2 separate regions of the Homo sapiens genome follow, and region 1 is linked to region 2. The links come from fine-mapping of genetic effects on gene expression. A gene starts in region 2. The other region holds a variant in brackets. All regions are shown on one strand. Distances are from middle to middle.

Evidence for each region.
Region 1: its variant is fine-mapped to the expression of TNRC6B-DT in testis (GTEx, PIP 0.94).

The regions. Positions count from the first base shown.
Region 1 is chr22:40,123,273-40,139,434 of GRCh38, forward strand. It overlaps a transcript of TNRC6B not described here. Among named protein-coding and RNA genes, the nearest start is that of TNRC6B, 47 kb to the right of the region's middle. The variant C/A (reference allele first, on the strand shown) is at 7,196.
Region 2 is chr22:40,036,440-40,052,601 of GRCh38, forward strand. It overlaps TNRC6B-DT (TNRC6B divergent transcript), which reads right to left and starts at 8,091. Exons shown (of 1, transcript NR_163486.1): 1 at 6,691-8,091. FAM83F (family with sequence similarity 83 member F) reads left to right here. Exons shown (of 5, transcript NM_138435.4): 5 at 1-7,095. It also overlaps a transcript of TNRC6B not described here. RefSeq lists enhancers at 7,086-7,733, 7,815-8,114, 8,425-8,544 and silencers at 8,845-9,064, 9,075-9,144, 10,431-10,649.

The sequences.
Region 1 (16,162 bases), 87 kb after region 2:
GAGGAGGAGTCGGTAACGGGAAATAGCAGTGATTGTCAGAGAAGGAAAAAACTAATTTAGCCAGGCAAGTCAAGCTAGAAAGAGACTTAAGAAAAATAGAACAGCCAAATAGGAGAATCCAGAAAGGATGAAAGTAAAAAGATTAAAGCTGAAGGAGAAGCCAGCAAGTTGAGAGCAGTGCCCTTTCATAGAAGAAACAACCACTGCCATCCCTTCTTCCTCTCCCGACCTCCTGTCTCCAGTCAGTGCCTCCCACTGGCTTAGCCCAGCCAGCAGCCAGAAGATAAGGAGCCCAATGATGGTGTCCCCTGGGGCACACAGTTAGGCGGAGAATGGAGCGTGGGTCTGGAGGAAGCAGACAGTACAGCACCAGACCAAGGAGTGTGCTGAGCACAGGCCTGCAAGCATGAATGGAGTTCCAAGGAGTTTTTCTGGTTCAGCTATGCCTATAATGCATCATCTGGTTCAGCTATGCCTATAATGAAACAGAGAAATGCAGTCTCTGTTTCAGTGAAGTAGGAGAACTTAAAGACATCTGTGAAGCAAATTACACATAAAATCTTTCTGGATAAGTTATTGAGTTTTTCCAATGCTATCAACCTAATTTTTATAGAAAGAGAACTTTTTTTTTTTTTTTTTGCACAACTGTGATAAATAGGTGAGGGACAAAATCAACTAGAGAAAGCCTATTTTCACTTGCTGTGAGCATCCCTCATGTGTTTTACAGAGAGGATGGGCAATGTTGATTAAGCTGGGAGCAAGTGAATGGATATCAATTGAGAGCTTCTACTGTACTGATTTTACACTTCACATCACATAAATATGCATTTGTTCCCAACAAGACCTTGCTAGGTGGGTGAGCAAAGTAGATATTTTGGTAACCCCTTCCCACCCAGTAGATGAGGCAACAGCTTCCTGGAAGTGCCTTCTTAGCCTTGAGTCTTGGCTGGTTATAGAGAAGCCTACACCAAAACAGATCATCAAGCGTTGTGCATTAATAGATTTTTCTTGCACACACAAAAAACATACACTACCAGCATCTTTTTACCTTTTTTTTTTTTTTTTTTTGAGACAGGGTCTCACTCTGTTGCCAAGGCTGGAGTGCAGTGGTGTGATCACAGCTCACTGCAGCCTTGACCTCCTGGACTCAACCAGTCCTCCCACCTCAGCCTCTCAAGTAGCTGGGCCCACATACATGTGTCACCACGCCTGGCTAATTTTTGTATTTTGGGTAGAGGTGGGGTTTCGCCCCCAGGCTGGTCTTGAACGCGTTAGCTCAAGCCATCCACCTGCCTCAGCCTCCCAAATTGCTGGGATTATAGGCATGAGCCACTGCACCTGGCCTTTTTTAGTTTTTATGTTTTGTAGCTATGAGCTTTAGAGTAGCTGATAGGTTTGTAAATATTCATACCTGTATTATAATGGAGATTTGTGTCATTTGAATAATTATTCCTCAATAGGGCCAGGAGCGGTGGCTCACGCCTGTAATCCCAGCACTTTGGGAGTCTGAGGCGGTCGGATCACGAGGTCAGGAGTTCAAGACCAGTCTATCCAACATAGTGAAACCCTGTCTCTACTAAAAATACAAAAATCGGCCGGGTGTGGTGGCAGGCGCCTGTAGTCCCAGCTACTTGGGAGACTGAGGCAGGAGCATCGCTTGAACCCAGGAGGTGGAGGTTGCAGTGAGCCAAACTCTCACCACTGCACTGCAGCCTGGGCGACACAGCAAGACTGTGTCTCAAAAAAAAAAAAAATATTCCTCAATAATTACATATGTAATGAATTCTTGAAAATGTTGCATAAATTTTTAGTAGTTTCCTTTTGGTACATTTTAATTCATAAAATTTTAACAAACTTTTTCTTGACTCATTTTATTCTTTGAGGAAAACTTAATTACTTTTTACTGTCTTGCCCTATAAATAGTCTCATATAAAAATAAATGAACTGACATTTAGTTTATTAAGCACATTTCCTAAAAATGAAAAGTGGGGCCAGCCATTATAGTGTACTTTAATTTCAGTTATAAAGAAAGCAGGAACGTTATTCATAAATTATAAGCCCGGGAAACCCTGCCAATTCCAATAGCCTTAGCCTAATACCCAGGCACTGTGACCTGCAGGGGCGGAACAACAGGTGCGCCGCTTTGCTCACTGCCATACTTTCTTGCAGGTCAGTGTCTGCTGTAAGAATTTCACCACCACCTCTGCCAAAAGCCAAATAAAATAGGGAAAGAAATCTAGAGCTATTAATATCCCAATGCTGGAAACCTTTCCTATCTACCCTTCTCCCCCAAGATGGGAAACATTCCCTCCCTGCTTCTCTCCCTCCCTTTCTTACCTTTAAGATGCATGTGCATAGACACACACACACACACAAAGTTACTCAAAGTTACTTCACAGTATCTGTGGCCTTATTGAGAGAATTTCAGTCTAAACCTTTGAAAAAAAAATTTTTTTGCCCTGAATTCCTTACATACTTTTTTCTTCTCTCTTCTTTTAGGCAGTATTTTTGTGTTTCTGCAGAGTTTTGCACAAAATCTGTTCCCATGCAAACCAATGAGGGAGAAGTATCGGAAGAAAGCAGTTCCAAGGTCAGTAAATTACTGAAAGGTACAGTTTGGGTAGAAATTGAACAGTAGAGGCTGTGGATGAGTAGAATGGGTATTTCATTTTACATGACTGTAAAAATTCGATTGAGTTAAATTAGAACCTAACATAAGATTGAGAAATATTTTTTCTTTTCAGTATACTTTTTAATCCTATATGCTAATTTAAAACAATTTTACTGAACTACAGAGAACTTTATAATTTATTTTTAGAACACTAATACTATGTCTTTTAAAGTTTGTTACGAAAGTTACTATAGGCTTATAAAAAATCAGAAGTATATAAAGTCAGGAGTCAAAGCTGGTCCCCTGTTCCTGCTGCACAGAGGCAGTCACTGATAATTTTTAGGTGTTTTTCTATTACAAATTTTATTTTATTTTATTTTAGATTTAGAGGTACACGTGCAGGTTTGTTGCATGAGTATGTTGTGTGATGCTGAGGCTTGGGGTACAAGTGATTCCATCACTCAGGTAGTGAGCATAGTACCCAAGAGCTTGTCTTTGAACCCTTGTTCCCTTCCCTCCCTCTCCCTTTTGGAGTCCCCAGTGTCCACCGTTTCCATCTTTATGTCCACATGTACCCAGTGTTTAGCTCCCACTTATAAGTGAGAACATGCAGCATTTGGTTTTCTGTTTCTGTGTTAATTCATTTAGGATAATGGCCTTCAGCTGTATCCCTGTTGCTACAAAGGACGTTATTTAATTTTTTTTTTTTTTTTTTTTTTTTTTTTTAGACTGGGCCTGGCTCTATTGCCCAGGCTGGAGTGCAGTCATACGATCTTGACTCATTGCAGCCTCTGCCACCCAGGCTCAAACCATCCTCCCACCTCAGCCTCCTGAGTAGCTGGGACTACAGGTGCACACCACCAAACCTGGCTAATTTTTGTATTTTTTGTAGAGACGGGGTCTCACTTTGTTGTCCAGGCTGGTCTCACACTTCTGATCTCAAGCACTCCACCCACCTAGGTCTTCCAAAGTACTGGGATTACAGGCATGAGCCACCATGCCTGGATGATTTAATTCTTTTTTATGGCTACATATTATAAATTTTTAAATGGTAATTTGTTTGCTTTGTTTTTTCAATCTAGAGCCTAAGGAGTGTTATCATCATCAAATCTTGTATGTAAATATATATAATAAATAAAATAAAAATAAATATATATTAATCCTATATATAAATCCTATATATAAATATTTATCTATATTTTTGTCTATATCTGGCTCCATGTGCTGATTTTCCTTGGCTGCTTCTTAACATAGTTACATGAGACCCTTAGTATTACTTTTACTTCCCTCTCTGTCCATTCAGAATTGTCTGTAGCTCTTCCTGGGAGCTCTGAAAACAACTCTTTCCATTTCTTTCTGAATGCCCCCTCTGCGGGGCTATGATCTAGTCCGTGGCTTGGGTGGAGGGACAGATGTCATCCTGTCCTCTTAGTTTTCCTTTCCCATATCACCAGATTTCTTTCTTCTTTCCGTAGCTAAAGCAGAAGCATATAGGTTTTCATCAGACTCATTTAGACCCTGAATCTGATGTAGGGTTAGTCAGAGCCTGTGAGGTACACACACGATCTAGGAATCTCCCTCACACACACACACACAGAGGCACACATACCCAGGACACCCAAGATACACACACCCCAGAATTTCTGAGGTACATATACACCCTTCCTCAAGATCCTAATTTACTAATTGATAGTGAAATATAATGTTAAGGAAGATTGGGGCTCATGCCTGCAATCCCAGCACTTTGGGAGTCCGAGGTGGGCAGATTGCTTGAGCTCAAGACTTCGAGACCAGCCTAGGCAACATGACAAAACCCTGTCTCCAAAAAATACAAAAATTAGTTGGGCATGGTGGTGCATGCCTGCAGTCCCAGCTACTCAGGAGGCTGAGGTAGGAGGATCATTTGTACCCAGGGCTGTTGACGCTGCAGTGAGCTGTGATCATGCCACTGCACTCCAGCCTGGGCAGCAAAGCCAGACCCTGCCTCAAAAAAAAGGAAGATTGGATTTCTGGCTAGTACATTTTCTCCCTGGAAAGAGAAGGTATAATTGGGAGATTGCTTGGTGAACATGTAATTAGACTGGTATAGAATATATTACTGTGCCATAAACTCAGTTTTCAACTTCTTTTTGGAAAAATAAATGACTAGCTTTCTTGATTTTTCAATTACTGAATAGTTTATCAGTTCAGAATGAATTAGACTCAAGAATAAGAGAACATTCTTTTTATACTTGCACTAAGTGGATGCTTCTGTTATAAATTAGATTATAACTTCAACTTCATCAGCCTTAGTTTAACTCAGGCTCTTATGTTTTTCCTCCTGATGTTTGCTTTTGTTTAAAATCTTATATTTGGAGGCTGATCTCATCTCGCAGGGGTCAGTCCATTCTCCTCCTCCGAGGGTGTAAATCAATCAATCAATAAAATCTTATATTTGGAATGATTTAATGTATGGCTGGAATTTGTCATTTTGCTGTGGTTACATAGTTTGTGGATGTCTGTTAACAGAAGGCCATTAGGAAAGGTAGTAGGTTTTGAGGAAAAGTAGAGAATTTTTTACCAAAAAGTGATTTTCAGCTGAATTTATTTTTGTTCAATATATTTTTTTTGAGACTGGATCTTTCTCTGTCACCAAGTCTGGAGTGTGGTGGTATGATCACGGCTCACGGCTCACGGCTCACGGCTCACGGCTCACAGCTCACAGCTCACAGCTCACTGCAGCCTCAACCACCCAGCCTCAAGCAATTCTCCCACCTCAGCCTCCCAAGTAGCTGGGACCACAGGTGTGTGCCACCACACCTGGCTCTCTTTTTTTTTTTGGTAGAGACAGAGTCTTGCTGTGTTGCCCAGGCTGGTCTCGAACTTCTGGGCTCAAGTGATTCTCCTGCCGCAGTCTCCCAAAGTGCTGGAATTATAGGTGTAAGCCACTGCGCCTGGCCTTCAATAAATAATTATTAAGCACGTGTTATCATGGGATACAACAGTGAACCAAAAATACATGGTTCCTACTCTCAAGGCGGTTTCATTTTAGTGGGAGACATGAATAAATATAAATAAAGATAATAATTATAAATGATGGTAAGTACTATGAAAAAAATAAAGCCATGTCATGCAGGGCAGCTGGGAGGAAGAGCGTAGCTAGTCAAGGAAGGTCTCTCTGAGACGGGGACATTTCAGCTGAAGCTAATGGGCAAGGGAGCCAGCTGTGTGGAGAGCTGAAGCAACAGTGTTCTAGACACAGGAAACAGCTGCAAAAGCCCTTGGCCTCTTCTAAGAACTCTCAGAAACCTGTGGGCCAAGTGTGACAGGAGGTTAGAGAGAGAGACAGAGACCTTGCAAGACCTCAGAGGCCACAGTGTGCAACGTGGACCTATTCTCCATGCCTAGGGCAGCCATTGAAGGCTGTTCACTCGAGGAGTGATGTGATGTGTAGGATTTGCATTTTAAGAGGTGGCTCTGTCTGCTGTCTGGACAGTGGATTGGAAAGAGGTAAGAGTGGAAGCAGGGAGCCTGGTGAGAAGGCACGTGCAGCTGTTCGGGTAGGACTACATTCATGGGTGTTACTGGAAGTGGAGGAAAGACAGACTTGAGGTGTATTTTGGCGCCAAAACTGATGTGACTCGAGGATGGATTGAGATCCTTTTGCATCATAGAAATCAAAAGGGGAATTTCAAGAGAAAGGCTCACTCAGTAACTTCAGATGCTGCCAAGAATCAAGGAGGTTGACAAGTGAGAAAAGACACCTGGATTTGTTTAAGAACTAATTAAAGAGAAAGGATATGAGAAAACTTTCTAGGGGGTGATGGAGATGTTCTGTGTCTGATAGGGGTGCAATTGTTTATAATTACAATAAAAATGGTTACAGTGTAGGTATGTTTTATGTGGTGAAACTGACAATCAAATGGAGTGGAGAATACATGGAAGTATAGATGAAGCAGGAATGGCAGAATGTTGGCAACTATTGAAGTGTTGTGATGGGTACATAGGAGTTTATTTGTATTTACTTTGTACATGTTTTAAATTTTCTATGATAGTTTCTAAAAAGAACTTACTGGTGTTCAAGGGTGCCATTTAATTGGAGTAGGAGGTGCAGAAACCAAATTTTATGGGTTAAAGAGAAATTAAATGATTTTTAAAAATGAGTTATGACTATAGTCCACCACCCAATTTTAGGACATTTGGAAATAAATGGAAGAGAGAACAATGAGGAGGAGGATTAAGTTCAAGTGAAAGATTTTTTTTAAATGGAAGAGGACTATGCATGTTTGAGAAAAGAGGGAAGAAATGGGTTGAGGAAGGCAGAGTGCAGTTAGAAAAAGGTTTCTCAGATTCCCAGGCTTAACGGGCCTCGTACTGCAGTAATGCCTGAGCTCAGGCCCAAATCCTGCTCTTCTGACTCTTGTTTAATGGCGGAGGGAGTTTTGGAGGAGGAAAGAAAGAAAGGAAGTGGGTTCAGCTTTTCTTTGTATTGCCTTCGAAAGAGAAGTCATTGTAGTTGGTAGAGTGTAGAGTACACAGTTGAAGACTTGAAATGACAAGTTTTGATTTCCTATTAAGAGGAAAGGCTTGGAATTGCAGTTGTAG[C/A]GAAGGTGCTAAGAATAGTTAACAAATGAATTGGCCGGGCGCGGTGGCTCACGCCTGTAATCCCAGCACTTTGGGAGGCCGAGGCGGGCGGATCACGAGGTCAGGAGATCCAGACTATCCTGGCTAACACGGTGAAACTCCGTCTCTACTAAAAATGCAAAAAAAAAAAATTAGCCGGGCGAGGTGGCGGATGCCTGTAGTCCCCCGCGGGAGGCTGAGGCAGGAAAATGGCGTGAACCCGGGAGGTGGAGCTTGCAGTGAGCCAAGATTGCGCCGCTGCACTCCAGCCTGGGCGACAGGGAGACTCCGTCTAAAAAAAAAAAAAAAAAAAAAAAATAGTTAACAAATGAATAAACGGTCAATATGGTTTACAAAATATCCAGGTAAGTTGTGCAAGTATAGATCAGGAGCCCTTATGGATGGGCAGGGTTGGTATAGAAGTCTTTTTTTTTGAGACAGAGTCTCGCTCTGTTGCCCAGGCTGGAGTGCAGTGGTGCGATCTCGGGTCACTGCAAGCTCCGCCTCCCGGGTTCACGCCATTCTCCTGCCTCAGCCTCCCGAGTAGCTGGGACTTGACAGGCGCCTGCCGCCACGCCCGGATAATTTTTTGCCCAGATAATTTTTTGTATTTTTTAGTAGAGACGGGGTTTCAGCGTGTTAGCCAGGAAGGTCTCGATCTCCTGACCTCGTGATCCGCCCGCCTCAGCCTCCCAAAGTGCTGGGATTACAGGCTGAGCCACTGTGCCCAGCGCGGTATAGAAGTCTTATTGGAGGAAGTGAATTTTGCTGTTCCTCTTGAAGAGTGCTCTCTGAAACTGTGCAGCATCTTCCGTAACATTTTCTTGGAGAGAGATGTTTATTGAAGTTCAGAGATGGATTAGGATTATATATTCTTCGGGAGTTGGGAATTGTAGACTTTGACCTCTTGAGTTTAGGGATTTTTTTTTTTTTCTCTGCCAGAAAGATATAAAGCAGGTGATGGTTTCTAAAAGACTGCTGTAAACAGATTATAGATCATTCCTGAATTATGCACAAGCATAATTCCTTATTTTTGCCTCCTTTCCTCCCCTCCTCTCTCCTGATTAATTCAGCACATATTTATTGAGCACCTACTGTGTGCTAGGAACTGTGTTGGGTGTTGATACACAGAATTGACTCCTTAAACTATTATTTATTCTTTGTTTTAATTATTGGAGCTCCAACCACTTAAAGTGGAGGCAGGAAGAAAGAATGTTAAATTTCACATCAGTTTAGAACGAGCTTTTTTTCCCTGAATGGTCACCAGATTGCAATTTTGTATGACCTAACAAATTTCTCAAAGAGAGTTCTGCTATTGTTGTGAAAGCTTCTATTGTAAATGCTGAAGGAAGACAAGTTGACAGAGTTTTTGTTAATGTAAAACTTCAGATGCCTCTGAACATATCCTTTGGAGGAACAGTGAATATTTCTTACATTTTTCCCAAGGACCACTTCAGGGCTTATTTAATTTTTCTGCTGTGTATGTGAGAGATAAAATTGAATCAAATTAACAGAGTTACCCATGGATCTGTCTTATTGTTCCATATTTTTAGAGGTTAAATATGAAAATTACCTTCTGTGACTGGGTGCAGTGGCTCACGCCTGTAATCCCAGCAGTTTGGGAGGCCGAGGCAGGCAGATGACTTGAGGTCAGGAGTTTGAGACTAGCCTGGCCAACATAGCAAAACCCCATCTCTACTAAAAATACAAAAATTAGCTGGGCCTGTTAGTGTGCACCTGTAATCCCAGCTGTGCCTGTAATCCCAGCTACTCGGGAGGCTGAGGCAGGAGAATCAGTTGAACCCAGGAGGCAGAGGTTGCAGTGAGCCAAGATCACACCACTGCACTCCAGCCTGGGTGACAGTGTGAAACTCCATCTCAATAAAGACGAGACGAGACGGGACGGGACGGGACGGAGCCAGGAGGCAGAGGTTGCAGTGAGCCAAGATCACACCACGGCACTCCAGCCTGGGTGACAGTGTGAAACTCCATCTCAATAAAGGCGAGGCGAGGGCGAGGGCGAGGGCGAGGGGCCTGTAGTCCCAGCTACTTGGGAGGCTGAGGCAGGAGAATTGCTTGAACATGGGAGGCAGAGGTTGCAGTGAGCCAAGATCATGCCCCTGTACTCCAGCCTGGGCAACAGAGTGAGACTCCATCTCAAAAAAAAAAAAAAAAAGGCTGGGCGCAGTGGCTCAAGCTTGTAATCCCAGCACTTAGGGAGGCCAAGGCGGGTGGATCACGAGGTCAGGAGATCGAGACCATCCTGGCTAACACAGTGAAACGCCATCTCTACTAAAAATACAAAAAAATTAGCCGAGCATGGTGGCAGGCGCCTGTAGTCCCAGCTACTTGGGAGGCTGAGGCAGGAGAATGGCGTGAACCTGGAAGGCGGAGCTTGCAGTGAGCCAAGATCGCGCCACTGCACTCCAGCCTGGGGGACAGAGCAAGACTCTGTCTCAAAAAAAAAAAAAAAAAAAAAAAAAAATATATATATATATATATATATTCTGTAAAATCCGGAGGCACAGATATGTATATGCTTCATTGGCCTGATTCCCGTAGAGAGAAATTCATGTGACCTATTTTATTTGGCATTTATGTGCTTATATTATCACACTGATCTGAAAACAGATACTACTATTTTATCTGTCACATGTGGCTTTGACTGGTTAAATGTAATGCTCATTTTTCTTAGTGTCTGGTTTCGCTGTCACATAGTGGAACTGTACATTACTGGGAGGTTTCAGCTCTATTGTGGATTTACTGACACATGCTGAACTAAGCTGTTTATTTGTATCATCTCTTCTTTTTATTGAGATATTATCAAAAATGACATACTTTTATAGTCATTCAGTTTTTTTAATGCAACAAACATTTATTGGGCACCTACTAGTTGCTGATGTCGTAGGTACAGGCATGCAAAGTGATTTATGTAAGACATGGTCTCTGCATTTCGGGCACTTTTAACCTAGTTGAGGGAGGTAACCATACCATACAGGCTATGATACCGATATTAAATATGTGCCTAGGGCAAAGCAATGAATTCTTTCTGGAAGGAAGTCCACAATGGAGAGGGAACACTTGAACTGGGCATTGTAGAAAGACGGGTTTCATGGTTTTTATTGGTTTGTTGTTGAATGGGTGAGGGGGAGAAGGCTATTATATGCAGAGGGAACTGTGTATAGCATATAAGGGGTAATGTGCCGGGCACGGTGGCTCATGCCTGTAATCCCAGCACTTTGGGAGGCCGAGGCGAGCGGATCACCTGAGGTTGGGAGTTCGAGACCAGCCTGACCGACATGGAGAAACCCTGTCTCTACTGAAAATACAAAAAATTAGCCAGGCATGGTGGCATGTGCCTGTAATCCCAGCTTCTCGGGAGGCTGAGGCAGGAGAAGCACTTGAACCCAGGAGGCGGAGGTTGTGGTGAGCCGAGACCGTGACATTGTACTCCAGCCTGGGCAACAAGAGCAAAGCTCCGTCTCAAAAAAAAAAAAAAAAAAAAAAAAAAACAGGTAATATGCGATGGGAGATGGTGAAAAATTTGATTGTGTTTCAGATATCTTGATGTCTGTTACATCACATCAAAACTTAGTGGTTTAAAACCACCATTGTAACCTCCTGAGTGGAATAATTGCAAAAAGTTTAGTAAATACTCTATCCTCAAGGATGTGGAGCATAACTTTCCACTCTTAAAGTGTGGATTCACACAGTGGAGAACCCTAAAGTCAGGCAATCAAGTCAACATCAACAGTGATAAGTCATTTTTATACTTTGTACCCTTGGTACGATGTGAGGAAATGGCACTTCAATTTCTAGTTGTCTTCCCTAAAACCCATTATCCCAGTCTAATCATGAGAAAAACATCAGACAAATTCCACTAGCGGAATGTTCTGCAGAATACCTGATCAGCACTCCTGAAAACTCAAGGAAAACTGAGAAAAATCTGAGGAACTGTCACAGCCAAGAGACAGCTAAGGAGACACAATGACAATGTAATGTGGTATTCTGGATGGGATCCTGGAACATTAGGTAAAAACTAAGCAAATTTAATAAACTATGGACTTTAGTTAATGTATCGGGTTGGGGGGCTACGGGAGGGATAGCATTAGGAGAAATACCTAATGTAGGTGATGGGTTGATGGGTGCAGCAAACCACCATGGCACATGTATACCTATGTAACAAACCTGCATGTTCTGCACGTGTATCCCAGAACTTAAAGTTTAATAAATAAATAATAATGTATCAATATTGGTTCATGAATTGTGACAGATATACTAAGGTAACATGTTACTAACAGCAGAAACTGCATCCGGATAAATGGACTATCTTCCTAATTTTTCTGTAAATCTAAACCTGTTCTAAAAAATAAAGTTTTCATATATTTTTAAGACTCCATTACCAAGACAGCATTTTATTTCTCATAATTCTGTGTTTTCCTGGGCTCACTAGGGCAGTTCTTCTCTTCCAAAGTGGTATTGGCTGGAGTTACAGTCATCTGGAGGCCCAATTGGCCAGAAATGCCTGAAAGGGCCCACTCACATGGCTGGCAGTTGGTATTGGCTGTCAGCTAGGAGACCAACTTGAGGCTGTTGACCCAAGGTTCTCCTCCATATGACCTCTGCATGCCTTGGGTTTCTCACAGCATGGTGGCAGGGATTCAGGAGGGAGCATTCCAACTGTGCAGGAGCTGCAGACACCTTAAGCCCAGCCTTAGAAGTCACCCAGCTTTGCTTCTTCCCCAGTCTGTTGAATTAAAGCAAGTCACAGGACCATCCCAGACTCAAGGGGAGGAGAAACAGACCCCACCTTTCAGTGGGAAGACTGACCTTAAATATGAGATCATCTTTCATCCACCATACAGCGACTAGAGTGTTGGGTGCCAGGGAGACGGGGGCATGGCAGAGCCCAGATTATCTTAGGCTGAAGAGTTTCAAGAATAGACCACAGATTAAACAAATTTATTTTATTTTATTTTTATTTTAGCAACCTTATTGACACCTTGAAGTAGCAAATTTTTTTTTGTTTAATAGAAACATGTTCTTGCTCTTTTGCCCAAGCTGTAGAGCAGTGATGTGATGATGGCTTGCTGAAACCTTGAATTTAATGGGCTCAAGTGATCTTCCCACCTCAGCCTCCGGAATAGCTGAGACTACAGGTGTGCCACCATGCCTGGCTAGTTTTTCTTACTTTTTCTGTAGAGACTGGGTCTCACTATGTTGGCCAGGCTGGTCTCAAACTTCTGACTCAAGTGATCCTCCTGCCTCGGCCTCCCAAAGTGCTGAGATTACAGATGTGAGCCACTGCAGCCAACCAAAGCAGCAGACTTTTAAAGCAGGGAAATGAGATGTACATTTTACTTTATGATTTGCTGTGTTAGGATAACTGGTGTTGATGTAGAGAGGGTAGGTAGACTAGAATATCTGTATCTTTACATTCAGCTTCTCTAAAAGAAAAGAGGATTTAATAGGCCTACTTCAGCCTGTGGACTGATTTCCATTGGGTCCTGAGTTCTCAGGAGTTAGGAGAGCAAGAACCGTAGGTGAGGAAGTAGATCCCATAGAAGGTCAAATGAATTGGGAGGCGAGGACTGGCATTTCTGGCACGGTCTCCAGACCTGATGTAATCTTTCTTTATGGTTCTTAACAAAGATAGATTGGAATGCTTAAACTCTGTAGCCATTTCTCACTTTAAATGTAATGTAACTTAGGTCGATATTCTAAATGAGTTGGTGTTAGCTTACTAGTTGTAGAGATTCTGTAGCTCTAGACTTGAAATGTTCATTTTTTAAGTGAAATCTAAAACAGATATAGTAAAATTTGTTATAGAGCTGAGCCGTTGGGTGTCTGTGATCATATTCTCTGTACCTTTGTGTATGTTTATCTTGTGTGTGTGTGTGTGTGTGTGTGTGTGTGTATACTTTTTTTTTTGAGGCAGAGTGTTGCTCTGTCGCGTAGGCTGGAGTATAGTAGCCTGAACACAGCTCATTGCAGCCTGAACCTCTTGGGCTCCAAGGGATCCTCCTGCCTCAGCCTCCCGTGTAGCTGGGACCATAGATGCATGCCACCACACCGAGCTAAATTTTTTTTTTTTAACTCTTTTTGTAGAGACATGGTCTCACTATGTTGCCTAGGCTGGTGTTGAACTCCTGGGCTCAAGAGATCCTCCCACCTTAGCCTCCGAAAGTGTTGAGATTACAGGCATGAGCCACCATGCCTGGCCTGTATATTTAAATATTTATAATAAAACAATAAAAGTAAGCTCTAGGGTTTCAAATTTATAGCTATATATTTAAGTACCCACGTGTTTCTACTAATTACTGCAAATAAATATTTACTGAATCAGGAAGCTAACATTTTAGCTATTAATATAACATTATCATTATCAAAGGCAGCAAGTAAACGTAGTCTTTGTCTACAGAGAATAAAGTCATCTGTTGATTTGCTTAACATTAAAGATAGTTAAATAGGGTAACTTAGACATAAAATACACAGTAGTATTTGAATGATCTGTTTTAATTGGTTTCATTGACAAAGAACTGCAAGATCTGTTCTTAATATTAAGTGCTCATTTAGTCAAGAAAAGTGTTACACAGAAGTATTTTAGGAACTTGGTAATTTGTTTTGTTTGTGTTTTGGTAGGGGATGCAGAGAAAAAAGATTTACCCATTGTTTAATAAAGTCTTTTGCTTTCCAGAGCTTAGGATATCTCTACCTTAGGCTGGATCTGCTTTAGCAAAAGTGATAACAAGATTTCATGGATTTTGGTATTCTGAGAGCAGATTGGAAAAGCAAACATGCAGCGCAAGTGCTTTCCCCATTTGTTTACGTAGCTGGTAAGCAACATCATTTGGGTTGAACTCCAGGCCTGTCTGACTCCAGAGGCCATAGTAGTTCAATACTCCATCCTGGACAAGTTACACGGCAGAGTAATCAGCTGTTTCCTTATGTCAGATAAACTTACTGGAAAAGTCAGTTTATAGAACTATAGACTTCTATAGGTACAGAAGAATCCCTAAGAAGGGAGAGGGTGCTTTGTGCGTATTCAGAGCCACACATTTCTCCGGAGAAGAGATGGTTAGAGCATTGAGAGATGTCTGTGAGACCCTGGAGATGGAGTTAGAAGCAGAACCCCTGCAGGCAATAGGGAACTATTGAAGGATGTTAAGCAGGGGAGAAACCTGATGATCTGATGCATATTTTAGAAAGATGGACCTGCCGGGCCTGGTGGCCCACACCTATAATCCCAGCACTTTGGGAGGCCGAGGCGGGTGGATTACTTGAGGTCAGGAGTTCCAGACCAGCCTGGCCAACATGGTGAAACCGCATCTCTACTAAAAATACAAAAATTAGCCGGGCATGGTGGCAGGCGCCTGTAATCCTAGCTACTTGGGAGGCTGAGGCAGGAAAATCGCTTGAATTGGGAGGCAGAGGTTGCAGTGAGCCGAGATCACACCACCACACTCCAGCCTGGACAACAAAGCTAGACTGTATCTCAAAAAAAAAAAAAAAAAGAATGACCTGGCAGGAGTGTGGAGAAATGATTACCAACAGGCTGTAAAATGGAGACACGGAAACCAGTTAGGAGAGTTAGGAGTCCCCTCAGGAAGACTGAGGAAGGCTTTTGAAATAAGGCAGTAACAGTGGTCTGCAGAGGAGGGGACTGACAGGAGAAGCATACAGGAAGGATGGGAGGAGAGCACAAATCTGCAAAGAGTGGGTTAAATGATGCCATGTGAAATAGGAGATAGAGCAAGGTATTGGATGTAGCTGTTGTTACTGTTATCGTTATTTTTTTGAGACGGAGTCTCGCTCTGTTGCTCAGACTATTGTGTAGTGGTATGATCTCAGCTCACTGCAACCTCTGCCTCCCAGGCTCAGGAGATTCTCCTGCCTCAGCCTCTTGAGTAGCTGGGATTACAGGCACACACCACCATGCCCAGCTAGTTTTTGTATTTTTAGTAGAGACGGGGTTTCGCTATGTTGGCCAGACTGGTCTCGAATTCCTGACCTCAGGTGATCCGCCTGCCTTAGCCTCCCAAAGTGCTGGGATTACAGGCATGAGCCACCACGCCTGGCCTGTTACTGTTACTTTTAACTGGGTGTGGATTTTGAAATACTGAGGCACCTGCAGGCAGCCCAGGTAAAACTAAATTAGTAGGCATTTTAGAGCTCAGTAGAGAGAGAGGACATCAAGATACGTATTAGGAGTTCTCAGCATATAGGAATAGATGGGGCTGGGAGATGAGAAAAGGCTCAAGTATAGAACTGTAGGAAGTATTTCAGACTGTGTCCAACCTGAGCATGGATAAGAATTCACTCTCTCAAAGTACCAAAACAAACAAAACCCCAAACAGCAATTCAAAGTACTAAAAAAAAGTAAAAATAAAGGTAAATTAAGGAAAGAAAAGAATTAACTTGGATGTTCTTTCCTTTTCCTTTTCAGCAGCTTTATTAAGGTATACTTTACATCCTATAAAACTTACCCATTTATAGTATACAGCTCAATGGTTTTCAGTGTATTCACAGAGTTGTACCACCATCACTGCCATCTAATTTAAGAACATTGTCATTACTCCAAAAAGAAACTGTATCCATTAGCAGTCACTCTCTATTCCCTTTCCTCCCAGGCACAGGCAACCACTAATCTTTCCATCTCTACAGAATCACCTATTCTGAACATTCCATATAAATAGAATCATACAGTATGTTTTCCTTCTGTGTGATGTGAGACTTCTTTCAGTTAGCATCATGTTTTCAAGGCTATCCATGTTAAGCACATTATCAGTGCCTCAGTCCTTTGAATGGCTGAATAATACCCTATTGCATGGGTGTACGCATTTTTTTTTTTTTTTTTTTTGAGATGGAGTCTTGCTCTATGGCCCAGGCTGGATGGAGTGCAGTGGTGCGATCCTGGCTAACTGCAGCATCTGCCTCCTGGGTTCCAGT
Region 2 (16,162 bases):
GGCTGCGGTCTTATCTGGTTGTGCAAAAGTCCCACAACCTTTCTGGATTGATAGTTTGTGGTGAAATAAACAATTTTAGTTTGTTTGGAGAATCTTTTGTATACAAAATACAAATAAAACCTAAATCAAAGAAACAGAGCATGTCCGGAGAAGTCTGCCAACCCTTCTCCAGGCCATGGGGCTTCCCAAGCCAGGCCTGTACTCCTCATGTAGATTCCACACCCCGCCTTGATGTCTTTGGCTTTCACACTAGTGACTATAGCCTGGTGGGACGGGGTCTAGGGGCCACAGTCCTGGTCCTGCGCAGGTGGCCCTGGAGAGAAGCCTTGGAGAACTTGGAGAAGCCCACGCGGCTGGCAGCATCATGGTGAGAGGCTGACACCTTGTGGCTGGCTGGCAGCATACGTCCTTCCTCCCCTAGGTCAGCTAGACGGCCAAAGCAGGGATCTGCAAGCTCCTTCTGTGGCGGGCCAAAAAGTGAACATTCAGTGTGTCTGTTGCAGCTACTGTCATAGCACTGAGGCACCCCTAGACAGTACAGAAACAAGCAGGTGTGGCCATGTTCCAGTGAAACCTTATGAATACTGAAATCTGAATCCATAATTTTCATGTATCACAAAGTAGTAATATTCTTTTAATATGCAAAAACCGGCCAGGTGCGGTGGCTCATGCCTGTGACCTCAGCACTTTGGGAGGCCGAGGTGGGTGGATCACCTGAGGTCAGGAGTTCGAAACCAGCCTGGCCAACGTGGTGAAACCCTGTCTCTATTAAAAATACAAAAATTAGCCTGGTGTGGTGGCACATGCCTGTAATCCCAGCTACTCGGGAGGCTGAGGCGTAGGAATTGCTTAAACCTGGGAGGCGGAGGTTGCAGTGAGCTGAGATCATGCCACTGCACTTCAGCCTGGGCAACAGAGCTAGACTCCATCTCAAAAACAAACAAACAAAAAAACAAAAGCAAAAACCAGTCTTAGCTCACAGGCTGTGCCAAAACAGGCAGTGGGCTGGATTTGGTCCTCAAGCCTGGGCTTGCTGACCTCTGGCCTAGGACACCTCTCCTTTATGCCTCCGCTCCCAACACGGACTCTCAACTCTCATGTTTACCTTGTCATTGTTCTGTCAAGAGGAATTCACTAGTCTCACTCCTCCAACCAGACCGCTGCCACTAAGGCTTCTTCTGAACAGAAATTCTGGATTTGTTCTCACCCATTTCATAAATGTACATAAGCACCCATCAGGTGCCAAGCCCTGTGCTGAGATGCCTGCAGAGCCCAGAGTTTTCACCAACTTTTTTTTTAAGAGATGGGGGTCTCTGTTGCCAGGTTGGAGTGCAATGACATAATCATAACTCACCGCAACCTCAAACTCCTAGGTTCAGGTGATCCTCCCGCCTCAGCCTCCCAAGTAGCTGGGACTACAGGCATGCACCACCCTGCCCAGCTAATTAAAAAAAAAACTTTAGGGATGGGGTCTTGCTATGTTGTCTAGGCTGGTCTCTAACTCCTGGGCTCAAGTGATCCTCCCACCTCAGCCTCCCAAGTAGCTGGGCTTACAGATGTGAGCCACTGCACCTGCTCAACATTTAATTTTTTCATTCATTCATTCGTTCATTCATTTGTTCAAACGAACTTATTGAGAACTTACTGTGTTCCAGGCACTGTGATAAGATAGACCTGGCCTTTACCTTCAAATGTTCAGAACATGGTTAGGAAGATGGATACTGGGAGGCAAGTGTTCTGATGGGAAAGCACAGCATGTAAAGAAGCCCAGAGGAGGCACTTAACCTGGGGGAGAAGAACAGGGTAGGCTTCCTGGAGGAGGAGGTAATCTCTGAGCCGATACCTGAGGAGTGAATGGAGGAGGGGACAATGAGGCAAGGCATTCCAGGGAAAGGTCCAGAGCCTAGACAGAACTCTTTTAGGAGAATTATGAGAATCACAATTATCGAGGACACAGTGAAGACTCAGATAACTCAAATATAGGTTTTGCCCGCAAAGCCTTCCTGTCTGGTGGGTGAGACAGTCTACAGCAAGCTGCTCCAAGGATATGGAGAAAAAAGTTTTTCCTCTGGCCTTGTAGGATTGGTTATTACTGAGCCTGGAGTACGCAAAGGCCAGCGAGTGCTCCTAAGGCAGGGAGGGGGCTGCCTTCACTATGGGTGCTCAGGAAATCTGCCAGGGGAAGGGAGATGTGGGCCTGCCTCGGCTGCAGAAACCCCTCAGAGGAGGAGGAGGGGCTTGAACTGAGCTTTGAAGAAAGTGTAGACTTGGGGACAGGCAGAGGAAGAGGGGGCATCATAGGCAGCAGAAACCACATGGACAAACTCTCTGCCGGAGAATGGGCATGGCCGGGCTGAGGGGTCCCTGGACAGGAACCAGCCTTCCCTATGCACCTGCACCCGTGAGTCTCACAACAGCCCCAACAGGCAAGTGTTATTTTCCTCAATTCTACCAATTAAAAACTGACCTTGGGCAACTGCTTAACCTATCTCTGCCTTACTTTCTTCATCTGTATCTACCTCAGAAAGTTACTATGAGGACTGAATAAGCTCATACATATACAATGCTTGGAGCAGAGGCTGGTACTAGAGCTGGCTTCATGGGCATGAAACCTGTGAACACAGAACCCCATGCTTTCATTTTCCACTTAGTCCTGCCTGGCATAGTATGCAGTTTTTTTAATTTGAGATGGAGTCTCCCTTTGTTGCCCAGGCTTGAGTGCAGTGGCGCGATCTCAGCTCACTGCAACCTCCACCTCCCAGGTTGAAGCAGTTCTCCTGCCTCAGCCTCCTGAGTAGCTGGGATTACAGGTGCGCGCCACCATACCCAGCTAATTTTTGTATTTTTAGTAGAGATGAGGTTTTGCCATTTTGGCCAGCCTGGTCTTGAACCTCTGACTTCCATGATCCACCTGCCTCTGCCTCCCAAAGTGCTGGGAGGATTACAGGCATGAACCACTACGCCTGGCCTGGTATGTGGGTTAAAATGTTAGGTTTTATCATTATCTTAGGTGGAGAATAACAAATCCGATTCAATATATTCATTTTAGAAACGAGGAAACTGAAGCTTAGATAGTTTGTGTGACTTGCAAAAAGTCACGCAGCAAACAAGCTGCAGAATGAAGGGTGGAGATGGAGAGATAGAATTCTCATCTTAGAGGTGAAAGTAGGATAATGACCCAGCTGAGCTTGCTGAGTCCTGCGAGCGTCGCACGCCCCCAGAGACAACATAAGGAGAGAAGTGCAGACAGATTCCTTTGAAGGAGCTTAGAGAAAGAGATGGTAGGGAAAAGAGCATGAACAGTTGTAGAGGTAGGAGGAAAGCTGGCTATTTGGGGAAGCAAAGAAAAGATTCTCAGAGTAAAACGTATTGGTGAAGCCATGGAAACAAGGACTGAGAAAGTCTCTTGGATCTTGGCCACAAAAAGGTTATAGATGAGCTTAGAGAAATGAATTTCAGTAGAGTTAGGGCTAGAAGCCAGGTTCAGAGAGAGAAAACGAGAGAGCATTCCTGGTGGTGGAGATGGCCGCAGGCCATTATTTAAAAAGCTAGGATAAGAAAATAGAGAAGAAAGGGAAGGAAGCTATTTGAAGGGAGTGGGAGAAAAGCCAGATCTCAGTTGGGACGTGGAGGAAGGACCACCAGAGGCAGTAATTTAGCCGGAAAGAGGTGTATTTCTTTCCTTGAGTTTATAGGGGGTAAAGAGGATGGGGCTGAGATACTAAAGACTACGAGGACAACTGTTCATTGAGGGCTGGTCATCTCCCCAGCTGCACTGTGGGGTTCCCAAGTCAGACATCCCAGAGGCAATATAGCAGCGTGGACAAGAGCTTACTCGTTGGAGTCAGACCGCCTAGGTTCAACGATGGGTTAGTTAGCCCTTCAGTGCCTCCATTTTCCTATCTAGAAAATGTGGATAACAATGGTTGTTGTGAAGATTAACAGCCATAATCCACGTAAAGCCCTCAGTACAGTGTATGACACACAGCAAGTGTCCACCAAAGGGTAGTTATTATTAACCATAATCCTGGTTCTCTTGTGAGCTGCCTCCTGTGTGTCTAGCATTGGCCAGCACACATGAGGGGGTCCAGTGTTTGCTGCTTAACTAAGTAGCTTCTCAGGAAGTGTGGTCATAAAAAATGATAGGTGATTTAGAAGGTGAGACAGACACAAGGGATGTGTTGCACAGTAAATGCTCCCAGACATGCAATAAATGCTTATAAGCATGCCCTCTGTAATCAGCCCTCTTTAGAGAGTTTCCCTGCCTCATTGCTCTTGGTCTTTGGCAATGGCTACACCCACTGCCCAAGCAAGCAGTATCAGCTGTCAGCTGTCCCCTTGTCTTTTGGATCAGATTCCTTTACAGGGATCTTCCCATTGTTATAAGCTTCAAGAATTGGAGAATGCTTAATGAACACTTCCAAATTCTTCATAGCTATGAGGGGCCAGTGCAAAGGGCGGAAGGAGTTCTTCTGTGTCACAGAAATTAGAGCTGGAGCAGATCCAGCTTGCTATCCCCCCTTCCCCCAGCTTGTGGGTTATTGCAGAATTGTTCACAAAAATTCCCATTGCCTTGGAATTTGTCCAAGCCGAGGGCAGGGATCACAACACAACCTCTCAAGGGAAAAAAGGAAGGCCTGTTGCTTGAGATGGCTCAGAGCACTTTTGGTAGCCAGCCAAGGCAGCTATCACTCATGAAATCTGCCTTCCCCTCCAGCAAAAAGCCAACTGTATAGAACACCACATATAGAGCGCTAAGAATAGCACAGCGCTCCAAGAACATAGTGCACTTGGCCTGCATACAAGTGTGCAGGGCTTAACGAGTCTTTTTACTCTGAAAGCTGGGTGGGTTGGAACAAACAAACAGAAAAATATTTTCCCCAAGTAGCATGCAGAGAGGAAATGAGAGCAAGCACAAGAGAGCACCCTGGCATAGCATTCTCTGACCTGGGCTGCCTTTTCAGGGTATGAGTTGATTCCGCAGGCACCAAGGCATGCCTGTAAGCCCTACAGGGCAGACGCCCTCACCCCAATCATTGGCTTAACATTCACACCAGGCTGAGTAAGCCCCAAAAGTCCTGCCATTGGCTCTGACAGGAATTGAAACCCATCTTCTCCACAATAAATATTTGATTGACAGATTGGCTTCCTTCCTATAAGTATAGAAAGCGAGGGCAGGTTCCATCCAAAGCCGCAGTTCTGGGTGATGAGAGCTCTGAGAGCCCAGAAAAGACCCTGAACCACATCCCACTGTTTGTTGGAAGAAGAAACTCATTTGTGGGTCTGTTCATAAAAGAGTCTGGGAAGATAGTCTCCTTAACAGTGTCTGGATGTAACAGACTATGGGCGGCTTTTACTTTATAACTTTCTATATTGTCTGAAATACAGAATATTAAATATTGAGTTAATATTATATTTACTCAATGTTACTTTTTTTTTTTTTGAGACAGGGTCTTGCTCTATTGCCCAGGCTGGAGTGCAGTGGTGTGGCTCACTGCAGCCTTGAACTCCCAGGCTCAAGCAATCCTCCCACCTCAGCATCCCAAGTAGCTGGGACTGTAGGCGCAGGCCACCATGCGCAACTATTTATTTTCTTTCTTTTTGTAGAAATGGGCTCTGCCTGTGTTGCTCTAGCTAGTCTCAAGCTCCTGGCCTCAAGCAATCCTTCCGCCTTGGCCTCTCAAATTGCTGGGATTACAAGCATAAGCCAATGTGCCTGGCCTCAATGTTACTTTTATGATCAGAAAAACGGCCATCTTATTTGGAAATTATTTTCCTATTCTCAAGTGGGCAAATAGGAGAAGGTTTCAGGCATTTGTTTTGTCTCTGGGAGGGAAGGCACAATGAGGTGGAGTGGACAAATTGCTGAGGCCTTTATGGACAAAGATTCTAAGAAGAACAGGCTTTGGCCATCTCTGGATATTCCCATTCTGCTCCCTGCCACCAGAGAGCAAATGTCGTAGGTCACCACACATCACCAGTCTCTTGCCTAGCTAACCGTAACTCATTCTTTAGTTCTCCTTGAAGGTGTCACTTCTTCCAGGAAGCCATTTCTGTCCCTCCCGAGATGGAGTCCCATGTCCCTACCATTTGCTTCCAGGGCACCTTCTCACAGCACTGCATCATGGTTATCTGCTTATCTGCTGGACACCCCTACTCGACTGAGGTCCTTGAAGGAAGAGAGAGTGTATCACTCATCTGCATAGCCTTTGTAACTTAGTAAAAGTGCCTGACATGCTCACTAAACATTTACTGAGTAATTATTTATTTGGGGGCCTTTTACGATCAGAACAATGTGAAGGACACAAAGATGAAAAAGAAACCATCTGCTTCAAGGTACTTACAACTGAAATGTATCAAACAATTACCCAGAAAGTCAAGCACCAACTTAAGTGCTAAAATAGGGGTCCAAGCAACCAACTTTGAAGATTAGGAAGGTTTTAGATTCTGAATGTTTCTCATTCATTGTGTTTTTGAGTTCAGAATCCCCATACTGGAAGGCTAATATGGGGTATGTGCATACAATTTTAAGGACTCACGTTCTTACAACCTATATTAGAATTTGACGCACGATCTTTCTTCTGTCCTTCTTGCAGTTGCCCTAGGAATACATGCCACTTACTCTTAATTGACGTTTATGAAATACCTTGGCTTCATTTGCTGAAAGGCTCTAAGTGTTGAGCATTGTTACTATGTTACAATGGTTGTTTTATTATTAAAGCAGTGCCAAGGAGGTTACACAACAGCTTGGATCAGGAAGTGAAACAAGGGCGGTGATCCCACTGAAGCTACAGGGGATGGGGATTTGGGACGGTAAAATGTTAATTACCCAAGATGGAATGTGGGCTAGAGTCCAGCGTTGTGCTCCTGGAGATCATTTCGGTCGCAAAAGCTCACTGGCAATGGGTCCTAAGCGTCCTGCCCTCCTCTGGCTGAAATGTTGGATTCACTTCGATGAATGCTGCTATAGGGAAAGAACCCAGTGGCCACCAGCCAGGAGCACACGTCTTGCTCAGCATCAACTATCCTGGAAGATTTCCAGGAGCTGAAGGGCTGTTCTCTTTGCATGCAATAAATTATTCATTTCTAAGACGATTTATTCTGTCTCTCTCTTTAGACTTGATTTCTCCTAGTTTTCCAGCTCTTGAGGACTCTCTCCAAAGAATGAGTTGTAGATGGTTGGTCAGGGGTTGCGAGTGGTGCCTAGGCTTCGCATAAAAGGAGGCAGAAATGTCTACCTTAAAGGGGAGAGGAATGGGTCCTGGGGAGGAAGATGTGGTGGAGGCAATGACAACCTTTCCATAGTAAGTCCCCAACAAAGTCACTTCTAGAAACTGACTGAAGACTTTGAGTTCCAAATGAAACGTTTTTAAGATGCTAGGTTGGCTGACAAGTACATCGTCTAAGGTGGAGGCACTAAAGCATAATAAAAAGAGTGAAGTCTCTGCAGTTTGACCCAGGACCAGATGCCAGGCCCACCAACGACTCTGTATCTGGATGACCTTGGGCAAGTTTTCTAAGCTCTCGCCAGCCTTAATTTCCCATCTATAAAAACTGGATACTGCATTACTCCCAGGTTTAACCAGATAATGTTTGTGAAGAAAGCAGCCCAATACTTGGCACAAAATAGGCAAGGGAGTCACTATTATCGTCAACTACTGGCCAAACAACCAGAGTTGACCCCAAATCCCCAGTAAACAATTAACCGTAGCAGAGCGAATCCGGATCTGACGCACCTATTTGCCCAATAAGGTGCCAGGAAATAACACAGTGGAGTCAAACCAATGGTATTAGCCCTTGTTGATGGACGGGCTTTCTTGCTGTTCCACCAATAGCTTGAAGATTTGACTGGGGAGTGACATCCTGACAGTCCAATGACGCACAACCAGCCCACACTCAGCACTTCGGAGGGGATAAATCAAGGAGCCGGCACGTATGGATTCCGTTATAGGGCAGTACTGGTTGGAGAGAGGAGCTTAGGGAAACAGCGCCGAGGCAAGGCACTAATGAGCTAAAAATAAAGAAAAAAGACGATGGTTGCGCCAAGCGACCTCGGCCGCCATCATGCTCTAATTTCCCCTGAGTCTCTCTGGGTCCTCGACCGAGGAAGCGGCCTCTGGGATGCTGAGGGGGTGTGTCCCCACATGATTGGCTCAGGCAGCTCAGCCAATCCTAGCTCGTTAAACGGGAAGCACTTAACCAATGAGGGGCGAAGGCAGCAACGAGGAATTGGAGGGGCGGAACGACAGCTTGACGGGCACAAAAGCCAGCCAGTGAGAGCCGGAAGCATCCTCCCTGCGGCCAATGGAGTGGGGCTCTGGGCGGGCCCCCGAGTGTTTGTGTTGTGGTTTTGGGGGAGGGATGCGGAGGGGAAAGTTTGTTTATTTTGTTTTTAGTTTTTGGGGTCCCCGTGCTGCTGCAAGGCGAAACGGGAGGGAGTGACCCCTGCGCCCCTCAGTCCCCCCTACGACGTCGCCTCCATAGTCTGCGGAGAAGCGGAGACTGCGCGCCTCGCCTCACAGCGAAACGCCGCGCACTCGGAGCCGGCACGGCTCGGCGGTGAGTGAGGTGCGGCGGCCGCGCCGTCCTTCCCCTCCCCCGCGCCCCGCCGGGACGGAGCGGGGCGGCCGGGGGTCGGCGAGGGCGCCCCCGGGGGCGCGCGGCGCGGCCCGGGGCGGTGAGCGGAGGCGCGGCGTGTGCGTGTCCTCGCGAGGGAGCGCGCGTGGGGCGGGGAGCGGGCCGGGGAGGGGGCGTGAGCGCGCGCGGGGCTGGTGCGGCCGGCGGCGCTGAGCGCGCGCTCCGCGGGAGCGGGCGCCGCCGAGATTTGAGTCGAGGGGCGGGGAGGGACTCGGGGCGACGTCCGGCGCGCGGGCCGGGGCGCCCCGAACGGCCGGGCAGGCACTGGCGGGCGCGCGCGCGGCTCCGGGCGTCACGCGCCAGCAGGTGTGAGCTGGGGGAGGGCTTCCGGGTGGGCTGGCCCGGCCGTCGAGTTCGCTTCCCGTCTCCGGGGGGCCTCGGCGCGGGGACACCTTCCCGGCCCGCGGAGGCGCGTCCGCCCCTGGCTGGCGGTGGCAGAGGGAGGCGTCAGGCCTCGGATCCTCGGGTCCCTGCGCAGCGTCCCGGCCTGTGTGCAGGACCTGCGTGACAAGGTGAATGCGTTCCACACCCCTCGCCAGGGCCCTGCGTGTGCGGCCACTTGGGGAGGCGGCTCAGACTCTGGACAAGGAAACGAGGGGCACGGAGAGTGTTTTTACACCTTCCCGTGGTCCGGTGCCCTTCAGTTCCAGACTACCGGTTTATTCGGCTGTAGAGGCTGGACATCCGATCCAGCGAGACACGCTGTAGTGGTTAAAGACGTCCAGTAACGGTCACCTCTAGTCAAGCGCCTTAAGGACCAGCTTATTCTGAATTCTTTGGAATTCAGGTTACCAGCCTGGGACTTTAAGTTCGTGCTTTCTCATGTGTTTTGGCTGTTTTATTACTTTTTAGCATCAGTGCTAGAGATTGAACGAGAGGATGGTGAATTTCAAGTTGGTCATTTGTATTATAATTTAAGCAAAATTATACAAAATTGGTCAAAGATATTTCTTCATAGTGAATAAAACAAGCCAAGAATCAGTGAATGAAACATTAGTGCCCCCACCAACAGTTAAGTATATATATAAAGTGTGTAGAAATGATAGACATTAGCATTTTGTGAAAGTTTACTAATAGAGGTTACTTCTCTCTTCGCTGTGGGAGATTTCAGTAGTATAAGGTTTCTCTTGATTTGGAGAATCATCAGTGATCTTGGCTTCGAAAGTACAGATGTGTTTTGGGTAGTGTTGTGTAAATGCCTCTTATAGAGCGGAACTTTTAGCGCATTGTCTCTACAGCGCGCAGCATTGCTGTAGGCAGGTAGTGGGAGGGCTGTGTAGTGCCCACTTGCACGAAGGCACACTCACCAATATCCAGAATACAAATCAGACTGGCTTGTCCCACGTGGGACGTGGTGATGATGATAATAATACTTTTATATTTTCTTAGTTCTTTACTATTATTAAGGGCTTATCCCAAACACCATTATTTGAGCAGAGTGGTTTCTGATAGGAATTCCGTAGCTGCTTTTCTGTGGTAACATATAAATGTCATGCCCTTGAAAAAGATTTCCCTCATTCAAATGGAAGCACTTAAATTTTTTTTTTTTTTTTTGAGACAGAGTCTCAATTTTTTTTTTTTTTTTTGAGACAGAGTCTCAAAGATTGTGCCAGGCTGGAGTGTAGTGGCACAATCTCGGCTCACTGCAAGCTCCGCCTCCCGGGTTCACACCATTCTCCTGCCTCAGCCTCCCGAGTAGCTGGGACTACAGGCGCCCGCCACCACGCCCGGCTAATTTTTTTGTATTTTTAGTAGAGACGGCGTTTCACCATGTTAGCCAGGATGGTCTCGATCTCCTGACTTCATGATCCGCCCGCCTCGGCCTCCCAAAGTGCTGGGATTACAGGCGTGAGCCACCGCGCCCGGCCTTAAAAATGTTTTCAAGTCGGAGCAATACCACTTGTTGAAATGGCAGTAATAATATTAGCTAACATTTATTGTATGCTTACTCTATGCCAGCCTTTTGACATCTTTTCCCCTAATTCTTAGCCCAAGCCTGTGGGGTAGGTATCGTTACTATACTATGAATGAGAAAAGGGATCTCCAGGAGCCACACAGCTATGCAGTTCCAGGGCATAGGTTTAGTCTCAACGTCTGTCTGGTTTGAGAGCCTACGCGTGTTTCATTTTGCCTCCTCCTTGAATTATCAGAGGGAGAAAGGGCACTGAAAAGTAGAGAGGAATAGAAAAGGAGAATACCACTGATGATTAGGTTGCCCATACCTAACTTAAGAATTTAAATTAGGCTGGGCGCGATGGCTCACGCCTGTAATCCCAGCACTTTGGGAGACCGAGGCAGGTGGATCACTTGAGGTCAGGAGTTGGAGACCAGCGTGGCCAACATGGTGAAACCCCGTCTCTACTAAAAATACAAAAAATTAGCCGGGCGTGGTGGTGGGCGCCTGTAATCCCAGCTACTTAGGAAACCGAGGCAGGAGAATCGCTTGAACCCGGGAGGCGGAGGTTGCAGTGAGCCGAGATTGTGCCATTGCACTCCAATCTGGGCAACAAGAGCGAAATTCAGTCTCCAAGAAAAAAAAAAAGTTTACATTAAGCTCATTCTTGGCTTTTAGAAATTAATAACATTTTTGCAAAAGTACATCTTATTTCTTCCCTGTTTAATTTTTATAAAGATTGTAAAAATACATTTTAGCTCAAGAGTTCAAGGCTTTCAGAGCCCTTTGTGCAGATTGCTGCTCCAGTCCCGGGCTATTGTGTATTGTGATAAATTGTGTGCTCTTCCAGGGACTGTTACTCATTTTTCTATCCAGCACAGTGCTTGGCACATAGTGGGAACACAGAAAACGTTAGTTGACTGACATTTGATTCTAAGGAGCAGAATCAAAGTGTAGATTTCGGATTCATTTTAGTCGTTGAATTGTGCAGTTTTAGTTTAACAGGACAATAAGAAAATGACTAGTTCATGTGCAAAATGCGCGTTTTGAAAAAATACTTAAATGGAGCAACTCATGGGGTCTTGGAAAATTCTGTCAGTTTGCTGGATCTCTCCGTTCTACTATCATGTTTGAGCTTCTGTTCCTCTCACTTCCAGAGTTCTGAAAGAGCAGTCTATGCTGGCTGCTTCCCTTTCTTCACGTCTTCACTACACAGTCATTCTTTAAACTTTTGCAGCCAGATTGTTCCAAGGTTGCCAATTACCTAGTGGGTAAATTTCCCACATTGGCCGGGCGTGGTGGCTCACGCCTGTAATACCAGCACTTTTGGGAGGCCGAGTCAGGTGGATCACGAGGTCAGGAGATCAAGACCATTCTGGCCAATATGGTGAAACCCCGTCTCTACTAAAAATACAAAAAAATTAGCCGGGTGTGGCGGCGCATGCCTGTAGTCCCAGTTACTCGGGAGCCTGACGCAGGAGAATTGCTTGAACCAAGGAGGCGGAGGCTGCAGTGACCTGAGATCGCGCCACTGCACTCCAGCCTGGGCAACAGAGCGAGGCTCCGTCTCAAAAAAAAAAAAAAAAAAATTTCCAAAACTCTCTCTTCAGGTTTCATCCTTTTCTGTCTCCCTGCAGCAGTCAATCCTTTTTGACAATTCCTATCCATTTAAACATTTTTTTAAAAATAACATACAGTAATATTGACTTTTTATGTGTGTTTACAGTTCTGTGAATGTTCACACATGAATGTACACAGTCAGGATCAGAACGGTTCCATCACTCCAAAAAAAACTCCCTTGTCCCATCCCTTTGTATCACGGCTTTCTCTTTTCTTTTTCCTTCCTTCCTTCCTTCCTTCTATCCATCCATCCATCTTTCTTGTCTTTCTGACAGAGTTTCGCTCTGTCGCCCAGGCTGGAGTGAAGTGGCATGATCTCGGCTCACCACAACCTCTGCCCCGCTCCCCCCTCCCAACTTCACTGGGTTCAAGCGATTCTCCTGCCTCAGCCTCCCAAGTAGCTGGGATTATAGGCGTGCATCACCACGCCCAGCTAATTTTTGTATTTTTAGTACAAAGAGAATAGAAGGTAACATTTGTTCATTTATTTAAAACATTTATACACTGCTGGCTGGGCGCGGTGGCTAACACCTGTAATCCCAGCACTTTGGGAGGCTGAGGCGGGTGGATCACGAGGTCAGGAGTTCAAAACCAGCCTGGCCGGTCACTGTGTTAGCCAGGATGGTCTCGAACTCCCGACCTTAGGGATTTCACCATGTTGGCCAGGCTGGTCTCAAACTCCCACCTCAGCCTCCCAAAGTGCTAGGACACGGATGAGCCACCGTGCCCAGTCAGCTTTCTTAACTCTCTGCCTTTTCTTAAGTTTTTCTAACATCGTACTGTCCTCCTTCTTACCTTTTGGGGCGTCGTTCCTTTCCTGACTTCTATCCCGGAGATAAACACTAAGGTCAATTACTAAGGGCTCCTTTTATTGTTTTATTTTTCTCTTTTTCTAATCTTCATAAGTGTTATTTATGAGACTTAACTGTCACCTCTGTATATGCTAGCCTGCATATCCATGCCTCACCTCTCTTCCATACTCCAAAACAAAATCCATATTTACCTGCTGGCATTCTTTTTGTTTTGTTTTTGAGATGGAGTCTCGCTCTGTCGCCCAGGCTAGAGTGCAGTGGTGTGATTTTGGCTCGCTGCAACTTCTGCCTTCCGGGTTTAAGTGATTCTCCTGCCTTAGCCTCCCAAGTAGCTGGGATTGCAGGCGCACACCACCAAATCTGGCTAATTTTTGTATTATTAGTAGAGACAGCATTTCACCATGTTGGCCAGGCTGATCTGGAACTCCTGACCTCAGGTGATCTGCCCACCTCAGCCTCCCAAAGTGCTGAGATTACAGGCATGAGCCACCGCGCCCGGCTGGCATTCTTTGCTACTTCTTCGTACTCAGTATGTTGAAAGTCAAGTAATGCCTCCCATTAGTATTAGTTTCTATTATCGTTAGTTTCTATTAATTATTATTCTATAATTTATAATTATAGTTATTATTAGTGTTTTTCAGTGGTGCCATCATCCTCTCAAGTTTGCAACCCTGGAGCATTTGGAGGGCCATATAATAAACTCTGTTATTTCAAACCTGGAATCCTGCTACTTAGTTACGATACTGGCTGCTGCCCCTTTGCTACCAAGCCAGCCCGGATCCAGCGACCTGAGAGGAGCATGGGTAGTTGGAGCACTTAGAACCCCTTTAGGATTGTAGCATTTCCTTGTGGTCAAAACCCTTCTATGACTTCCCATTGCACTCAGGCCGGTTTGGGATTTTACTTTTTATCCTATGAGGCTCTGTGTGTTCTGGCCTCCCCAACCTTCTCTCACTTCTTTTACACCCCATCCTCCTCTCTGAGCATCTTAACTGCAAGGTCCTTCTTTCAGTTCCTCAAATTGCCCAAGCCTTTTCCGGCCTTAAGGCTTTTGTTTTTGTATACACCTGCACCACTCTCTTGGCTTGGGCTGTCCTTGCTCTGCTCCCCACTAGCTTTTACCCAGCTAACTTCAGGTTCAGATTAAATTGTCACCTCAGAAAGGCCCTCCTTTATGCTCTCGTCCCACTACCCCCATCCACCCTCAGTTAAGACTGGCAGAGCTCCTGTTATTTTTTCATAGCTGTCACCACAATTCATGATTCAGGACCATGTCTGTTTTGGTCCTGAATCTCAGTGTATCTCCAGAGCCTGGCCAAGTGTCAGGCATACAACAGACTTCCAGTAAATATTTGTAGGCTGTGTTGTAAGTCTGGGCTTTTGCTTTTGTTATTTATTGCTGTCCTGTAGTTTTTTTGTTTTTGGGTTTTTTTTTTTTTTGAGACAGAGTCTCGCTCTGTTGCCCAGGCTGGAGTGTAGTGGCGTGATCTCGGCTCACTGCAACGTCTGCCTCCTGGGTTCAAGCAATTCTTCTGCCTCAGCCTCTCGAGTAGCTAGGACTACAGGTGCGCACCACCACACCTGGCTAATTTTTGTATTTTTAGTAAAGATGGGGTTTCACCATATTAGCCAGGCTGGTCTTGGACTCCTGACCTTGTGATCCACCTGCCTCAGCCTCCCAAAGTGCTGGGATTACAGGCGTGAGCCACCGCACCCAGCCTATCCTGTAGTTTCTGGTAGCCTTGCCTACGTCCTCAGTGTCTCCTCTGGGACTTGATCTCACTGTTGGAAGTCTTGCCACAGTGAGATAGATTCCAAAATTGCTGAAGAGGACACCAATCCTGTTCTGAATTGTACCTCTGCATGGAATCCCTTATCACTAAGCCAGACTAGATCTAAACTAAACTGTGCTAAGCTCACTAAGTCCCACAAGTATTGCACCTTGGTTGTCCAGGCTGGGGTCAGCACTTGCAGCTGTTATTCTTCCGTATTTCAACCTGCTCTTGATTTCTTACTCCTCCCTCCACCCAGCATGGGGCTTCTAAAGACGTTGTATACTTTCCAGCTGAGCCTACTTACCCTTTGACATTTTGCAGCCTGTTGACATTGACAACTGCCTCCAGTGTCTCACCCCTACAGATTGCCCCCACACTGATCTTCCTGAAACAGTGCTTTGTTTATGTTTCCTGCTCCCTCCCAAATCGACCACAGGCACTACAGTTTGAAAGCCTTCAATGGTGTTTCATTGCCTAGAGGGTTTAAATGCTTTAGCTTGTTATTTAAAGTTTCTGGACTAGCACTGTCCAATAGAAATAGAATGTAAGCCACAAATATGAGCCACATATGTATAGATTTTCTAGTAGCTACATTAAAAAAGTAGAAAGGGGTGAAATTGATTTTTATAGCATTTTATTGACTTCAGTATATCCAAAATATTAACATTTAAATAGGTAATTGGTAAAAATTATTAATGAGATACTTTACATTCTTTTTTCTAGTTAAGCCTTTGAAATCTGGAGTGTATTTTTCGCTCATAGACATCTCAGTTCAGAGTAACCACATTTCAAGTGCTCAGTAGCCACATGTGGCTAGTGGCTACCATGTTGGACAGCACAACTCTAAACCATGCTCTCCACATAGTTGAAGGGCCATACCTGGGTACTTCCAGCCACTGGTCTTTTGGCTACTATTCCCCTCACCTAGAACCAGCTTCCTTATCCAAATGTGCCAACCTTCCTTGCCAAGAAACACAAGGGGACCCCAAGATCAAAGGGGGACCCTAAGATTAAAATTTAAGTTCTCGTCATATTCTCTGAAAACTTTTAACAATTTTTTTGGTGTCATTGTTTTTTTCATATAGTGATTACTTACGGTCTTTACCAATTTGCGTTATAATCAGAGGTAATATTACAATATTTAACAACAGATAAAGCATGAACCAATAAGAATCGGTGTCTGATGAATTAGAATTGATGGCAGCTGTACACAGCCTCAGTGTTCTCATTTGTGTGTACCTGCTTAATAGCAACGCTGTGTATTGTATTTTTTTTTTTTTTTTTTTTTTTTTTTGTTGAGGCAGGGTCTTACTCTGTCACCCAGGCCGGAGTGCAGTGGCATAAACATGGCTCATTGCAACCTCCATCTCCTGGGCTCAAGCAGTCCTCCCACCTCAGCCTCCTGAACAGCTGGAACTACAGAC